Homo sapiens: one gene and its partners. The protein of the gene in region 4 interacts with the protein of the main gene of each other region in a pairwise test. Each region holds a gene or a part of one and is shown on either strand. Other genes may lie near its edges.

Region 1 (3,519 bases), on a different chromosome or scaffold from region 4:
GCTCTTAGTGTATTTCAGAAAAAAGCAGATGGACGAAGACCGACCTTACAGACGTGGGTTTCTACACTGAGCGCAAGGGCTGACTACGCTGTATTTCACAACCGAGCCCTAGCGCCAGCTCAGCACCCTACGCTCAGGAAGCGGATTTTGCACACACACTACTGCATTCATACAGAGTTCACTGAAGTCTATTACCAAGTGTCTTTTATGAATAAACAATACAAAGTCCAATTTTGATGGCTGCTATAAAATACTTAGGAATCTCTGCAATACTTTACTACAAATACAAATGCCCAAGAGGTCAGGGAAATCAGCCTGAAGAACTGGGTACAGGTTCTATTCTTTGTGGAAATTTCAGCCTAGGAATGTTATTCCCGGTACAGATGTACACAGTCAAAAAGGCTTATCGAGCTGTTTGACGAGTTCTTGAAGTGTTCTGGATCAGTGATCTGCCTGTGAACTTTAGTTCACGCTGAAGACAGTCTTCTCAGTTTTCATGACTGTGAAGTGTGAAAATGGAACGCATCCTTGATCTTAGGTGCTGCTGACCTACTTTCCCAAAGCAAAATGTTTTAAAATTCAAGGCAATCTGGAACAGGGACTATTTCCAAACTTCCTTAGGCAGCACTTTTCAGTGACTTCCCCGCACGCTGCTTTCCCTGCCACGAAGCGCTTGGTCTGCTTACTAAAGCCACGTATCCTGATTTTACAGAAACGTGGGCAGGTCCAGCAGTGCCACTGGAGAGCTCCCAGAGAAGCCCACTCAGAAGGAAGTGGTCAGACCACCCTCGAGCCAGAGCGGCTGGAAGCTGGACTGGTCCCATGAGGCAGAAGGAGCACCAGCGCCTGCTGGGTGGTGTGGGGAGAGCCCTCAGCTGACTCTGGACACACCTGCTTCCGGGGCACGTGGCCCAGAGCCGGGCCTGTGGACGGGCCTTTCTTTCTTCTTGGGGTGGACCCCGTCCCCACGATCCCTAAATGGCCACCCCCCAGACAGCCCAACAGGCAGCGAGAGGCCTGCAGGCACTGAGGATGCCAACAGGGCTGGAGAGAGCTGCAGCGTCCTGCCCCGTCCTCCCCACACCGCTGGCACACGAGCAGTCAACTGGTGCTGCTGAGGCAGGCCAAACACCACATTTATAATTCAAGCTTCCAAGGGAAAAAGATTCTCATGTTCTAGTAAAGATACAAATTTTAAAAATTGTCCAAAAAGGGCCTGAATTTTTATATGAAGGTTTTCTGGTGAAATCTTTTAAGCAGGGAGGAAAATCCAATAAATTTTTTTAAAAAGGTTTAGCTATTCCCCAATGCTATTTAATACAATTGAGGTTAGGACGTTAAGTCCTTATCAGACTGTGTACTGGAGCCCCGTGTCATCAGCAAAAGCCGTGTGAGTCAACAGGTGTGAAGACTCAAGATGCGCACACAGACGCTGTCCGTGGTTTTATGGGGAATGATGAGGGCTGGTCAGTTCTCCTCATGACAAAAGTCAAACCGACTTCCCTGTGTTGCGTGTGAAGCTTGTTAGTGGACAGAGAGAAACGCAGGGTTCTGCCCTGGGAGAATGACAGCCACAGCGCTGGGTGCCGTCAGGCGGCTTCGTGTGCAGTTAGCGTTTCACAAACTGAGAAGAGTATAAAAAAGCCCAAACCCCAAAGATTTCTTATTTCAAGTGACTAAATCTAGAAACAGAGATGAACAGGGAATAGAAGGTCACCAGTCTGCAAGACGAGAGGACTGTCCTTCAGGGGCAGCTCTCCGGCCGCCTGTCCTGGAAGGCTGGCAGGTTCACTGGCCAAGGTCAGGAGACCGCAATGGCCACGTGGTCTCCCGGCTGGGCTGGGCTGCGGAGCGTGCACCTCACAGGAAGCGTCGGGACTGATGTGCTGGAGCGCTTTAGTTGTTTTCAAATCTAGCATACGGGTTTTCTTCTTTAAACAGGCCTGAAACAAAATAAACTTGAATCATAACTTCATTCATTCAACCAGAAACAAAATCTTAGAAAGCCATACAAACCAAGCTTTATAAGAAGATTTACTGAGGCTATAGCAACAACGGGCATTGTAAGCAGGCTCTCATACAGTGCTTAACCTTTTTTGAAGTCAAACCACTTTAAACTTTAAAACTGAAATAAAATTTACTAGAAACAAGAACTCTAACAGATCCTAAGAGATAAGCACTTACTTCCTGATGCTCGGCGAAGAAAAGAAATTTAAGGCAAGTATTTCTTTCCACAGTGGTTGGCTAGTTCCACAGTGGATGGCTACTATTAAACAAAATAACCTTACTTTGTGCTTATAGCTGCTCTTAAACCTTTGGAATTAAGGCTACAGAAAGAACTAAGATGACCATCAATCTAACTCTCGAGTACTCTGACAAAACTGGGATAAAATGTGTATTTAATCATAAGAGTAAACCTGTGCTACTTACCCAAAGACCAGGAGTTTTCCCTTCACACTGCAGAAACACACACACATACACACACTCTCTCTCCCTTTATTTTTTATTTTTTTTTGAGACAGAGTTTTGCTCTTGTTGCCCAGGATAGAGTGCAATGGCGCAGTCTCGGCTCACTGCAATCTCCGCCTCCTGGGTTCAAGGAATTCTCCTGCCTCAGCCTCCGGGTAGCTAGGACTGCAGGCACCCACCACCATACTTGGCTAATTTTTGTATTTTTAGTAGAGACGGGGTTTCACCATGTTGGTCAGGCTGGTCTCGAACTCCCAACCTCAGGTGATCCACCACCTTGGTCTCCCAAAGTGTTGGGATTACAGGCGTGAGCCACCGTGCCTGGCCTCTCTCTCCCTTTAACAATCTGTATTGTACACTAAAATTATCTGCAGCGATTACAACAAAGCTACTCACTGCATGTATTCTGGGGGCTGGGTGGAAGAGGCGGCGGGGAAGCAGAGGGATGGTAAGGAAGGGCCTAGCCATGTTTCTTTCTTGCCTGTCAAGGAGGGCCACAGGCATCAGGCTTTGGGAGTGAGGCTCAAAGTCGGTTTTGGGAAAGAGTCATCAGATACTAGCAAGGAGGCTGGTTAAGTTCTTATTGAAAAACTCGCTCCTGAGTCTACTTCCAGTTTAGAGGGAAAACCAAAACCAAAAGAAGGGTTTTTGCGTGCGTGCTGGTATTTTATATAACTGCACCAGGTGGACTCACATGCTTTCTCGCACTCTCCCATCAGGAATTCCTAGGAATTCTTCTAACTAGCCGAGGCTTTCCAAAGCACAGGCCATTCAATGGCTTTATTACAAACTGGCACAAAAAGCTCATTTCATCAATGCAATTAAAGGGCCAAATTAACCACCAAAATGGCAAGTGCAAGTCAATCAGGGCCCTGACACAGAAGACACCACTCCAAGAGCCTGGCCGGCCACCCACAGCCTCACACCCGCTGGGAGTCAGGGCACAGTAAAGGTCGAGCAACTTAAACACAGCTTGTGCTTGGTGATAACAGGTGCTGGGCAGTGTGTGCGTGTGTGCGCGTGTGCGTGTGTGTGTATCCACCTTGTCTT
Region 2 (3,519 bases), on a different chromosome or scaffold from region 4:
AATTTCACAACCCAAAGAATTATTTCTTACTTCCACCTGCTGAAGTAAATGAAAATGCTGGCCATTTTCTTATTCTGAAACTCTTATCCTTTTGCATCCATTTCCTACCACTATCTTTTCTTAGTTCTGATTTAGGTTCCTTTTCTTCTATTTTTAAAATCACATCATCGTCCTTCTTTTCACTGGCTATCTCATTAGCTAACATGGTTACAGCTTTCTATTGTATGCTGATAACACTAGCACTGTCTTTTCTCTTGAATTCCACATGGGTATTTGTGTTATATTTTCTTTTTCTTCTATTCAGTATCAAAGAGTCTGATATGTGCCAGACACCAGGTATAGAATTATGGTGAGGAATAAAAGACACTCCTTACCTTTGACAGGCTTACAGTGGTAGAGAAAACAGACCAGTAAACAGGTAATTATAATATAGTGCTTGTTATAACAGAGGTGTGTAAAGGGTGTTATGAGAATACACAGCAGGGCTCTACTATATGCGTCCTATGGTCATCTCAAAACCAATTCCTTGCAAAACTAAACCATTTAATCCCCACGCGTCAGCAGATTCTTCTTTCTAGATTCTCTATCCTGGTTAACAGCCACAGATTCAAAACAACATCAAAAAAAAAAAAAAAAAAAAAAGAAAGAAAAAGAAAAAGAAAAAAAAGACACCAAACCAAAACAAATCTTGACTCCTCCTTTTCTCACCCTCCCTTGGAATAATGGATTTTAGTTCTAAAACATATCCCAAATATATTCCTTCTTCACTATCCCTCATGTCATTGACTTGTATTTTATTCTCTTTCAACCTGGCTATAACAAGTGTTTCATTCTAGACTCTTCCTAGTCATTGATTATTTAGCCCCCAAAGTTAATTTCTAAAACTTAGATCTGATCATATATCCCATACCTCCCCTTTCCTCAAAACTATTTATTGCTCCTGACTGAAAATACAATAAAATCCAAAATCCTTGTATTATTTAGTTCTTCAAAATCTGGAGCCAATTTCCATTCTAGTCTTATCTTCTTCTGTCACACCATACTATATACACAAATATGTCATGCATTTTAATGCTTTCAAGCCTTTTCATATGCTGCTTGCTCAGCTGGGAATGTGTTTTTGTTTCCGCAATCAGCCTTTCTCCACCAACAGCAACCTAGTGGATACAATCAAGTATTCAACCTCCCCCTTTCCCTTCTGCAGTGTTATTGTCTTCTAGGGCTCCTCAGGCTTTTTGTTTTTTAGTTCATCACAGAATTATAGCATTTACCACACAGTAAAATAATATCAACACTTTTTTTTTTTCCTTTTTTTTTTTTTTTTTTGAGACAGAGTCTTGCTTTGTCACCCAGGCTGGATGCAGTGGTATGATCTTGGCTCACTGCAACCTCTGCCTCCAGAGTTCAAGCGATTCTCCTGCCTCAGCCTCCTGAATAGCTGGGATTACAGGCATGCACCACCACGCCCAGCTAATTTTTGTTTTTGTTTTGTTATTGTTGTTTTTGAGATGGAGTTTCACTCTTGTTGCCCAGGTTGGAGTGCAATGGCATGATCTCAGCTCACTGTAACCTCCGCCTCCCAGGTTCAAGCGATTTTCCTGCCTCAGGCTCCCAAGTAGCTGGGAATTACAGGTGCCCGCCACCACGCCTGGCTAATTTTTATATTTTTAGCACAGACGGGGTTTCGCCATGTTGGCCAGGCTGGTCTCAAACTCCTGACCTCGGGTAATCCACCCACCTAGGCCTCCCAAAGTGCTGGGATTACAGGTGTGAGCCACCGCAGCCAGCCGTAATTTTTGTATTTTTAGTAGAGATGAAGTTTCACCATGTTGACCAAGCTGGTCTCAAACTCCTGACCTCAAATGATCCACCTGCCTCAGCCTCCCCAAGTGCTGGGATTACAAGCGTGAGCCACCGCACCTAGCCCAACGCTTCTTTTCTACTCCGCTATATTGATCAATCCATTCATTCCAGAAGCAATTACTGAGTATAAACCACCATGTCAAATGCTGGGAGTATAACGGGCACAAAGAGTCCCCCAAACTACTTGTGGACAGGGGTCTTATGTTTTACTCGTAGTAATTTCATTTCCTTACTTACGGGCAGTGTTCAATAAATTTGGTTGGTTGAATATACTTCATGGCTGTTTAACTAGTAGGGTCTAAGTAATATGAGGAAAACAAATGACAAACATGCTACTCTACATGCATGTACTGGGGATGTGGACATGGATGAAGACTAAACTCTTCATCAAATCCCCAACTGTCATGATCAAAAAACAGTTAACACAGTCACAAAAAATATACCTTGGGTTCCCTTTGGACCAAACACTAACCACTTCCCTCCCAATCCCCATCATTTTTGTTGCTCAACCAGTGAAAAAATGGGTACAGCTTTAGGGAATCTTAAGCAAGATGACTAAATCATCTTGCTAAATCAAAAGAGAAAACAATACTTATTACTTCTTGAGTGTCAATTATATGCCCAACATGGTACGAACAAGTTTTACTTGCATTATTACTAATCTTCACACCTTGCCAGATGGGTATTAAGTTCATATGACAGACAAACTAAGGCTTGGGCAGGCTGAGTAACTCGCTTAAGTTCAGAGAGAAAATTGTGGAACTTGATCCAAACCCAAGTATCTAGGTGTCTCTGTTCTTTTCTGGATTGCATCTCTCTCCCTCTCGATGTCCCTATCTCCATCCTCTCCCAATTCCAATCCATCCTCTATGCTGCTCCCAGTTGTACCCTTCTAAAACACAAATCTGGTGAGTTTACTCTCTGTTTAGAAAAAGAACAAGACAGGATGCAACAAAAGAATCAAGTCTGAAAGATGCTGTAGCAGGATAATTCCTGTGGGTTTGTAGCTCTTTAAAATTAAACAAGCAGGGTACAAAGAAGCTATAAAAAATCACATTGCATTAGTTTCAGTTTGTGTGTGTGTGTGTGTGTGTGTGTGTGTGTGTGTGTGTGTTTTCCTGGCTCTGAACTTTGTTTCACTGCACTGGTTTTCACATGAATTTCACACAGCCTATCCCTGGAAAGGGTGGGACAAATCAAACAAAACTCAATGGAACACCATCCCTTCTTTATAAAAATAAATTCCTTTCCACCACTACTAACTGCTAAACAATAGATGTCTTTGTTTTCATTCTGACTCTGAATTTTGAGACTATTTCTTTGAATTATTTTAGTGAGCTAAGAGAATCATAATAATTTAAGCTTTCTGATTAATTTCAGGTTACGTTAAAAAACCAAAACCAAAACCAAAAGAATCAAAACAATCATCTTGGGCCTACCTGCACTTAAAGGCAAGAAAAACTAGCTTATCTAAAACTCACGCTTAGGCAAATTTGAGCCTACCGTAACTGTGACAATTTACTTCTTTAAACTATTAAATCACTTTTAGTTCAATTCTACATTAACTAAAAAAGATATCGGAATTAAACAAATACAGGAAATTGTAAAACAAAATAAAACTTTAAAACATCTTTTTTATAAGTTGTAATCTTTTTG
Region 3 (3,519 bases), on a different chromosome or scaffold from region 4:
TAGAATGTTCCAAAAATGTGGTATCAGCTTTTAAAGCACAGAATTCTGATGCTGGGAATTCTAAAAGCAGCAGATTTAATGAACAATAGATGATCTACTACTGTGATAGTCTACAAAGCCTATATAAGGCAAGTATAAGCCTACAAGGCTTATAGATGTTCGAGGCATTCCTAATTGGCACTCAATCTACTGGGTTTAGGGAAGCCCATAAAATAAAAATGCAAAGCAGGTTTTGAAGCTTCTCAACAATTTTCTCTCAACTTGTACTAGTTTTGAAAAAAGCTGTCTCACCAAAATGAGATTGTGAAATAAAATAACAGGCTCAAGGGTACTTTCTATTTTTAACAAGGCTCCCTCAAGATATTAATGTGACAAACTTACATAGCCAGCTGTAAGATAATTCTTTCAAATGCGCAAGTAACCTAACAGATTTGTGCATGTCAGCCAGTAATTTCAACATACATTATAAATATGGCCAATTTTCCCAAATTCTAAATGAATGGAGATAAAATGCTATATAATAAATATGTTAGAGCATCTTTCTTGAGAAACTTCTAAAAGGAAAAAATAAAAGACATAATTATACTCACACCACCAGTAAAACCTCTGGTCACCTGTTTTGGGTTGTGGAATGCCCCCAGCAGCCGAGAGACCTATATTAATATCAACAGAGAAATATCACACACAGAATTAAACCACATACAGTAAACAAGAGCGAGGAAGTCCTGATGGATGGTAATGCTGCAACTTGGCACAGATATATTCAGTAGCTTCCCAGGAATACAAATCTCATGTATTAGCTCAATGTGGCAAGCTATCTCAGATTTGAAAGCCTAAATACTCAGATTTTTACTTTAGATTGAGTACTGTATATTTTCAAAGTCAATTTAACGAATATAAGTTGTCAAATAAAAGATGTTGAAGGTAGAATAAAACTACTTTTTCAGCTCAACATACAGATTCTTCTCAGATGAGTGGATCATTTTGTGCCAACATTCTTGACCATTCGGTCAATTTAGGGGTAACATATATTCTAAGAAAATTACCATTAATTTTAGAGCCAGGATGTTCCTCATGAAATCCAGAGCACAACTCACTTATTTCTTGTTGTTGTTTTAGGCTTTTTGAGATGGGGTCTCCCTAGGTTGCCCAGGATGGAGTGCAGTGACTATTCAAAGGCACAATCATAACTCACTGCAGTCTCCAACTCCTGGGCTCAAGTGACCCTCTTGCCTCAGCCTCCTGAGTAGGTGGGATTACAGGTGTGCACCACGACACCTGGCAACTTGCTTATTTCATAAGCGGAGATGCTGGTCCCAAAGAAAAGCATTTGCCTAAGGTCACACAGCGAATAATTGGCAAAATGGAAACCCACATACAGGTCTTCTGACTCCTGGTCCAGTGCTCCTTCAATTATACATTATATCTATTCTGTGAATATTAAGAAATTACACTTTATAGTAAAATCTAAGAAAGTTTATTTAATACCATCTGATGCCCATGCCATACAGAATAAAGATTTTAAATAAATTACTGCTTCTTCTGATAATATAGGTAATGTGGTCATTACTGTCAGTTTGCTGGGACTAGGAAAAGATACAAAATATAAAATAAAAGTTACCCAGTAATCCCACCACACCAAGATATTACCACTGGTACGTGTTTTTTTTTTTTTTTCTCTCTCCAATTAACATCATATGCCAGAAATATAAATTTTAAAGGTTTATTATAAACTTTAATAACTTAGTCCTTGAGAACTGGTACAAAGTCATACTACATTATTATAAACAATATAAAAAAAGAAACTGGGTACATAGACCAAAGGTATTAAAATGCATTAAATTTTTTTTTTTTTGAGACAGAGTTTCACTCTTGTTGCCCAGGCTGGAGTGCAATGGTGCAATCTCGGCTCACTGCAACCACCACCTCCTGGGTTTGCCTCAGCCTCCTGAAAGTAGCTGGGATTACAGGGATGCACCACCATGCCCGGCTAATCTTGTTGTATTTTTAGTAGAGACAGGGTTTCTCCATGTTGGCCCGGCTGGTCTCAAACTCCTGACCTCAGGTGATCCACCTGCCTTGGACACCCAAAGTGCTGGGATTACAGGCATGAGCCACCACACCCGGCTGCATTAAATTTTTTAAAAAGTAACTTTTTCTCCTGCTAGATACATGAGCAAAGACACATTTGTTATATCCTATCTTGATGTTTTTTTCTGGGGTCTGAACCTTTGCTGAAATATTTATTGGTAACAACCAACAGCCAAGAAAGGTATGAATGAATTTTATTCTCTAATCTTCTGGTATCTATAGTCATGACTCTGCATTGAAAATAAGACTGGGCCAAATCCAAAAGAATGCCAAAACCATTGGCCAAAATGTTAATCCTAGGGCATGATTCATCCACCAGCGAGTGGGCTATTGGAAGGGAGGCCATTTAAAGGCTACTTTGTGACAAGAAAATTGACATGTGTCCTTTCTCCTCTCCCTGAACAAAAAAGAAGGAAAAGACATTCACACAAAACTCATGTCCTTGTGACAGAAGACCCAACCAACCAGGCTGTGCAACAAAGTGAGACCCTGTCTCTACAAAATTAGCCAGGTATGGTGGTGCACACCAATGGTCTCAGCTACATGGGAGGCTAAGTCGGCTTGAGCTCAGGACTGCTTGAGCCCAGGAGCTTGAGGCTTCTGTGAGCTATGATTATGCCACTGCACTCCAGCCTAGGTAATGGACAAAAAAAAGAAAAAAAGAAAGAAAGAATGAAAAAGACCCGACTCAAACAACTGATTTTAAAATGTAAACCCATCCTACCTGCATATGCTGGGGGCAGCAATGTAAACCCAGGAGTGTAAGGATTTGTGTTTTGTTCACTGTTGTATCTAGTGTCTAGAACAGTCCCTGGCTCATAGAAGGTATTCAATAATTTAAAAAAAAACAAAACAACAATCAAACAAAACTGAGTCCAGCCTCAGTCACATCTCTATCTGAAGAGTTTCCAAGCCAACAAGTAGCCTTAATACTTGCAATGATCTTCTTTAAGGACCAGTCTTTTCCATGTTTGTCATCTCTCTTGCATGATCTTAGAATAAAGCAGTACTGCACCTAAGTCATCACAATGACCCAGAACTTTAAGTAAAATAAAATTTTCCAAAGCACCATTTAAAGGTTACTTCGTGACAAGCAGAGCATAAAAGTGACATGAGGCCGGATGCGGTGGCTCACGCCTGTAATCCCAGCACTTTGGGAGGCTGAGGCAGGCAAATCACCTGAGGTCAGGAGTTCAAGACCAGCCTGACTAACATGGAGAAACCCTGTCTCTACTAAAAATACAAAATTAGCCAGGCGTGGTGGCACATGCCTGTAATCCCAGCTATTCAGGAGGCTGAGGGAGGAGAATCACTTGAACCCAGGAGGCAGAGGTTGCGGTGAGCCAAGATCGCGCCATTGCACTCTAGCCTGGGTGACAAGAGCAAAACTCCATCTCAAAAAAAAAAAAAAAAAAAAGGCCGGGCGCA
Region 4 (3,519 bases):
GAGTTTTCTGTTTGTTTCCCCTGTGCCCAGAATAGTGTCTAGCACACAGGGGCGCAGTATGTGCTCTTTTAATGACTTAATTAAAGGAAACCCAGTTACCAGAAAGAGAGAACTCACCTCGCTTGTGGAGAGTAGGGCTCCCAGAGAGGAGTGAGGCAGGAGATGGCTGTGTTTAATTTAGAGACTTTTCGTGACATTTCACTTTAAAACTATCCACATGTATTATATTGGTTAAATTACTTTTGTAAGAAAATGTGGCACATATACACCATGGAATACTATGCAGCCATAAAAAATGATGAGTTCGTGTCCTTTGTAGGGACATGGATGAAATTGGAAATCATCATTCTCAGTAAACTATCGCAAGAACAAAAAACCAAACACTGCATATTCTCACTCATAGGTGGGAATTGAATAATGAGAACACATGGACACAGGAAGGGGAACATCACACTCTGGGGACTGTTGTGGGGTGGGGGGAGGGGGGAGGGATAGCAATGGGAGATATACCTAATGCTAGATGACGAGTTAGCGGTTGCAGCACACCAGCATGGCACATGTATACATACATATGTAACCTGCACATTGTGCACAGGTACCCTAAAACTTAAAGTATAATAATAATAAATAAATAAAAGGAAAAAAAAAAGAAAATTTAACACCTCAAAGTAGTATTCTTAAATGTGTATATTTGTATACTGGAGTAATTTGTATAAGAAACTATTTGTCAAGACAGTGTTGTAAAATAAATTTGAAAGTAAAATTTTAAGAAGTAGATGTGATACAGCTTATCTTGAAGAGAACTCGTAGTTCCCTCTTCCTCTAGAAGCTAGGTGCCTGCTGAGCAAGAATAGAAAGGCGCTGCCTCTTAATAGATGTGAACAAGCGAGGCCTTTCCCCCTGCCTTAGGAGGCTGTGGGGTGAAGAGCAAACAGTCCACTCTGCACCTCTACCTGCCACCAGTCCTTAAAGCGTGTGCCTCTTGCTAACAGTCTCAAGGCAGAGAGGAAAAGCTTCAAGCTACATGAAGACCTTGAAGCTTCCTGACTAAGAGCTAAAAAGTACATTTAAAAGTAGCTCTTCTTTGCCAAGCAGCAAAGTAATAATTAGTAATTTTGTTTGTTTGTTTGTTGCAAGCTGCACGGGTTTCTTTGTTCTCCAAGGATAGTTCATTCCTCTGGTGTCTTTTTTTTTCTGACATCAAGTCTATGGGGTTTTTCTTCACACCAGCCAGTCGGATTCTCTGACACCAGCTGGGTGTCCAACACTTCAATTCACTTTTGACACTACCCAGAGTTAAAGGGGACCCTCCAGGCTAAGGAGACCTAGACTGCCACCCCCGCTTCAGACACCAGTCACAACTGGAGTGCCCAGGCTTCCTGCACTTCTTGGCCAAATACAGATCTGGCAGTTCCCACACCCTCCATCCCTCACATCCCCATCAGGTTGGAGAATTTGTTAGAATGATTCACACAACTCAGGAAAAACATTTTTCCTGGCATTTACTGGTTTGTTAGATAGGTGTCAATTCAGGCACAGCCTGGTGGAGGAGATGCTTAGGAGACGAGGTATGGGGATGGGCCACCTCCCAGCACCTCCATGCCACCACCAGCCCAGGAGCTCTCTGACCCCCATCCTTTTGGTTTTTTTGTGGAGGTTTTATTACAAAGGCACGATTGATTAAAACATTATCCATTGATGATTGACTCAATCTCCAGCTCCTCTTTCCTCCCCAGAGGGCTGAGGTGAGGCTATAAGTTCCAGCACTCTCCTCACTCGGTGAGGGCTCCCACGGCCACAGCCCCGATCCCAAGGCTCTCTAGCCTGCTACTCTTCCCACAGTTATCTCCTTGGCTTACAAAAGACACCTTTATCACTAAGGAAATCACAGGGGTTTGGGCCTCTGTGCCAGGAACCTGGGACGAAGACCAAATATATATTTTTTAATTTAATTAGGCCACAGTTAAGTTCTGGGAATGTCTAGCTAGCAGTGGTCCAGGCCCTGTGCTAGGCACTGGGATCCTCTGGTGAGTGAGACAGCAGAGCCCTGCCCCATGGAGGGGAGGCAGGCAGCCAACACAGAGACAGAGACAGAAAGAGCATCCCACCAAGTGGGATGGTGCCACCCAGGAGACAGCACGCTGAGATAGAGGGGGTCCACTGGATGGGGATGCTTGGGGAACGTTGCTGAGGAGATAGAGTTAATGAGACCCAAGGGACAAGGAAAGCCAGCGGTGTGACGAGCCCAGACGGGAGTGGCAGGGGCTGGGAGCAGGGAAGAGAATGGGGCCAAAGGGACAGGTACAGTGACGGAGATGTCCTGTCCTGGGCCTTGATGAGTTGGGCTGCTCTGAAGAATGGACTGTGGGCCACACATGGCAGCAGGGACAGCAGCGTGGGCAGACACAGGATTTGTGTAGTGTAGGAGACTGCACTAGGCTGGCGGAGTGAATGTGGAGGTGCACAGGAATTGAGGATGAATGTGGAGCTGATTTGCTTTAGAAACAGGGTGCGTGGTGATGCCTCTTCCTAGGCCAGGACGGGCCTGGAGGGTGGGACCAAAAAGAGTCCTGCTGTGCAGATGTTAAGTTTGACATGTTTATCAGGCAGTCTCATGGAGATATGGAGGCAGCACTTGGATCTGAGCTGGAGACAAAATTTGAGTCGAATGTTAAGAGAGCCCAGGACCCAGCTCTGGGGAATCGCAATCCCAGCAGGGCAGATTCAGAAGAATGACCAGAGCCAGAGAAGTGGCTGGTGAGCGGGAGGAAGACTAGCAGAGTGCAGGGCGCAGAGGCTGCGCGAGTGAGTGAGGACAGAAATGCCCACTCCAGCTTCGGTTGCAGAGAGGGTGGGGACCTTGACAGGCTTTTGGGGAGTAGCAGAGATGGACACTAGGTTGGCGGTGAAGAAGAGGAAGCTGCAGGTAAAGACAGCTCTTTCAGAAAGTTGGATGTGGGGCCACGCGTGGTGGCTCACGCCTGTAATCCCAGCACTTTGGGAGGCCGAGGCGGGTGGATCATCCGAGGTCAAGAGTTCGAGACCAGCCTGGCTAACATGGGGAAACCCCGTCTGTACTAAAAATACAAAAATTAGCCAGGCGTGGTGGCGGGTGCAGCTACTCAGGAGGCTGAGGCAGGAGAATTGCTTGAACCTGGGAGGCAGAGGTTGCAGAGAGCTGAGATCGCGCCATTGCACTCTAGCCTGGGTAACGAGCGAAACTCTGTCTCAAAAAAGACAGTTGGATGTGGAGAAGAGCAGACAGTGGGACAGTAACTGAAAAGATGGTGCAGCATATTTCTGTTTTGTGTTTTAAGATGGGCGGTACCAGAGCCAATTTATTTTTATTTTGCTAATAGGAAAAATCCTGAACTCCTGGCTTTTTTTTTTTTTTCTTTCTGTTGCCTGGGCTGGAGTGCAGTGGCATGATCGCTCACCGTCACCTCAAATTCCTGGGATCAAACAGTCCTTCTGTCTCAGCCTCCTGAGTAGCTGGGATTACAGGTGTGTACTGCCATA
Region 5 (3,519 bases), on a different chromosome or scaffold from region 4:
TCTGGTGAATGTTCCATGTGCTGATGAAAAGAACGTGTGTTCTGCAGCTATTAGAGTGTTCTGCACCTATTAGAATGTTCTGTAAATGTCAGGTCCATTTGGTGTAAAGTGCAATTTAAATCCAATATTTATTGGTTTTATGTCTAGAAAATCTGTCCAATGCTGAGAGTAGAGTGAAGTCCTCAACTACTATTGTATTAGAGTCTATTTCTCCCTTTAAATCTAATAATATTTGCTTTATATCTGGGTCATCCAGTGTGGGGTACATATATATTTATAATGATAATATCCTCAGGCCTGGCACAGTGGCTCATGCCTATAATCCCAGCACCTTAGGAGGCCAAAGCAGGAGGACTGCTTTGAGACCCAGAGTTTGAGACTAGCCAGGCAACATAGCATAACCCCATCTCTACAAAAAAATTTTCTTAATAAAAAAATATGATTATATCTTGCATGAATTGATCCTTGTTTCATTACATAATGACTTTTCTTTTTACAGTTTTTGACTTAAAGTCTATTTTATCTCATGTAAGTATAGTTATTTCTGCTCTTTTTTGGCTTCCATTTGTATGCAATATCTTTCTCCATACCTTCACTTTTGGCCTGTCTTTACAGGTGAGGTTTCTTGTAGGCAGCATACAGTCGAGTCATGATGGTGGTTTTTAATCCATTCAGTCAATCTATATCTTTTAAGTGGGAGAATTTAATCCATTTACATTCAAAGTTATCATCAATAGAGGTGCAGACTTTTTAAACAAATCTCTTCCCAGGAGAATCACTTGTTTTTTGAGAGACAGGATCTCTTTCACCCAGACTGGAGTGCAGTGTAGACTCACACTGTAATCACAGCTCACTGTAGACTCCAACTCATGACCTCAAGGGATCCTCCCAACTCAGCCTCTCAAGTAGCTGGGACTATAGGGATGTGCCAGCATGCCCAGCTAAATTTTAACTTTCTGTAGAGATGGGGTCTTGCTTTGTTGCCCAGGCTGGTCTCAAACTCCTGGACTCAAGAGATCCTCCTGCGTTGGCCTCCCAAAGCACAGAGATTACAAGTATAGGCCACCACACTCAGCCTTGATAGGTGAAGACTTACTTGTGTCATTTTTTAAATTGTTTTCTGGTAAAAATGCTAACAGTAACTAGGAGCTAAAAGATTCATTTGTTTTTTTCCTCCAGGCATCCACTCTGAGCCCCAGTGAAGAATGGTGGCAGCTGTAAGCACTACCAGCAAGTATACCCTACTGGTTGGAGAACTTTGTTTAAAGGATATAAGTTGTGTGCCTTCTGTAAATGACGATTTAATAATATCAATATCCATTTATCCTCTATAATCATAGTCAATACACAGAGAAAACCAAAAAATGCCAGACTTGGGTTGGGTTCCAAGATGGCCGAATAGGAACAGCTCCAGTCTACAGCTCCCAGCGTGAGCGACGCAGAAGACAGGTGATTTCTGCACTTCCAACTGAGGTACCAGGTTCATCTCACTGGGGCTTGTTGGACAGTGGGTGTAGGACGGTGGGTGCAGCCCACTGAGCATGAGCTGAAGCAGGGCAAGGCATGGCCTCACCCGGGAAGGCAAGGGGTCAGGGAATTCCCTTTCCTAGCCAAGGGAAGCTGTGACAGACGGCACCTGGAAAATTGGGTCACTCCCACCCTAATACTGCGTTTTTCCAATGGTCTTAGCAAACGGCACACCAGGAGATTATATCCTGTGCCTAGCTCGGAGGGTCCCACGCCCATGGAGCCTTGCTCATTGCTAGCACAGCAGTCTGAGATCGAACTGCAAGGTGGCAGTGAGGCTAGGGGAGGGGAGCCCACCATTGCTGAGGCTTCAGTAGGTAAATAAAGCAGCCGGGAAGCTCGAACTAGGTGGAGCCCACTGCAGCTCAAGGAGGCCTGCCTGCCTGCCTCTGTAGACTCCACCTCTGGGGGCATGGCATAGCCGAACAAAAGGCAGCAGAAATCTCTGCAGACTTCAATGTCCCTGTCTGACAGCTTTGAAGAGACCAGTGGTTCTCCCAGCACAGAGTTTGAGATCTGAGAACGGAGAGACTGCCTCCTCAAGTGAGTCCCTGACCCCCGAGTAGCCTAACTGGGAGGCACCCCCAAGTAGGGGCAGACTGACACCCCACATGGCCGGGTACCCCTCTGAGATGAAGCTTCCAGAGGAATGATCAGGCAGCAACATTTGCTGTTCAGCAATATTCGCTGTTCTACAGCCTCCACTGTGATACCCAGGCAAACAGGGTCTGGCGTGGACGTCCAGCAAACTCCAACAGACCTGCAGCTGGCGGTCCTGACTGTTAGAAGGAAAACTAACAAACAGAAAGGACATCCACACCAAAACCCCATCTGCACATCACCATCACCAAAGACCAAAGGTAGATAAAACCACAAAGATGGGGAAAAAACAGAGCAGAAAAGCTGAAAATTCTAAAAATCAGAGCGCCTCTCCCCCTCCAAAGGAACATAGCTCCTTGCCAGCAACAGAACAAAGCTGGACGGAGAATGACTTTGACGAGTTGAGAGAAGAAGGCTTCAGATGATCAAACTTCTCCAAGCTAAAAGAGGAAGTTCGAACCCATCACAAAGAACCTAAAAACCTTGAAAAAAGATTAGACAAATGGCTAACTAGAATAACCAGCATAGAGAAGTCCTTAAATGACCTGATGGAGCTGAAAACCATGGCATGAGAACTACGTGACGAATGCACAAGCTTCAGTAGCCAATTCGATCAACTGGAAGAAAGGTTATCAGTGATTGAAGATCAGATGAATGAAATGAAGTGAGAAGAGAAGTTAAGAGAAAAAAGAGTAAAAAGAAACGAACAAAGCTTCCAAGAAATATGGGACTATGTGAAAAGACCAAATCTACGTCTGATTGGTGTACCTGAAAGTGACGGGGAGAATGGAACCAAGCTGGAAAACACTCTGCAGGATATTATCCAGGAGAACTTCCCCAATCTAGCAAGGGAGGACAACATTCAAATTCAGGAAATACAGAGAACGCCACAAAGATACTCCTCGAGAAGAGCAACTCCAAGACACATAATTGTCAGATTCACCAAAGTTGAAATGAAGGAAAAAATGTTAAGGGCAGCCAGAGAGAAAGGTCGGGTTACCCACAAAGGGAAGCCCATCAGACTAACAGCTGATCTCTCAGCAGAAACTCTACAAGCCAGAAGAGAGTGGGGGTCAATATTCAACGTTCTTGAAGAAAAGAATTTTCAACCCAGAATTTCATATCCAGCCAAACTAAGCTTCATAAGTGAAGGAGAAATAAAATCCTTTACAAACAAGCAAATGCTGAGAGATTTTGTCACCACCAGGCCTGCCTTACAAGAGCTCCTGAAGGAAGCACTAAACATGGAATGGAACAACCAGTATCAGCCACTGCAAAAACATGCCAAATTGTAAAGACCATTGAGGCTAGGAAGAAACTGCATCAACTAACGAGCAAAATAACCAGTGAACATCCTAGTGACAGGATCAAATTCACACATAACAATATTAA

The links.
Region 1: the proteins of RAB4A (region 4) and PTTG1IP interact in a two-hybrid assay, tested with the Homo sapiens proteins (one large-scale study listed by BioGRID and IntAct).
Region 2: the proteins of RAB4A (region 4) and RABGAP1 interact in a two-hybrid assay, tested with the Homo sapiens proteins (one large-scale study listed by BioGRID and IntAct).
Region 3: the proteins of RAB4A (region 4) and IDH3A interact in a two-hybrid assay, tested with the Homo sapiens proteins (one large-scale study listed by BioGRID and IntAct).
Region 5: the proteins of RAB4A (region 4) and SOD2 interact in a two-hybrid assay, tested with the Homo sapiens proteins (one large-scale study listed by IntAct).

The regions. Positions count from the first base shown.
Region 1 is NC_000021.9:44,849,685-44,853,203, forward strand, and holds part of PTTG1IP (pituitary tumor-transforming gene 1 protein-interacting protein isoform 1 precursor), read right to left. Parts: intron 1,944-3,519; coding exon 1,897-1,943; coding exon of another isoform or gene 1,683-1,896; 3' UTR 1-1,682. UniProt on the Homo sapiens protein: May facilitate PTTG1 nuclear translocation.
Region 2 is NC_000009.12:122,947,501-122,951,019, reverse strand, and holds part of RABGAP1 (rab GTPase-activating protein 1), read right to left. Parts: intron 1-3,519. UniProt on the Homo sapiens protein: May act as a GTPase-activating protein of RAB6A. May play a role in microtubule nucleation by centrosome. May participate in a RAB6A-mediated pathway involved in the metaphase-anaphase transition.
Region 3 is NC_000015.10:78,152,347-78,155,865, reverse strand, and holds part of IDH3A (isocitrate dehydrogenase [NAD] subunit alpha, mitochondrial precursor), read right to left. Parts: intron 654-3,519; coding exon 591-653; intron 1-590. UniProt on the Homo sapiens protein: Catalytic subunit of the enzyme which catalyzes the decarboxylation of isocitrate (ICT) into alpha-ketoglutarate.
Region 4 is NC_000001.11:229,291,599-229,295,117, forward strand, and holds part of RAB4A (ras-related protein Rab-4A), read left to right. Parts: intron 1-3,519. UniProt on the Homo sapiens protein: The small GTPases Rab are key regulators of intracellular membrane trafficking, from the formation of transport vesicles to their fusion with membranes.
Region 5 is NC_000006.12:159,669,230-159,672,748, forward strand, and holds part of SOD2 (superoxide dismutase [Mn], mitochondrial isoform A precursor), read right to left. Parts: 3' UTR 1-3,519. UniProt on the Homo sapiens protein: Destroys superoxide anion radicals which are normally produced within the cells and which are toxic to biological systems.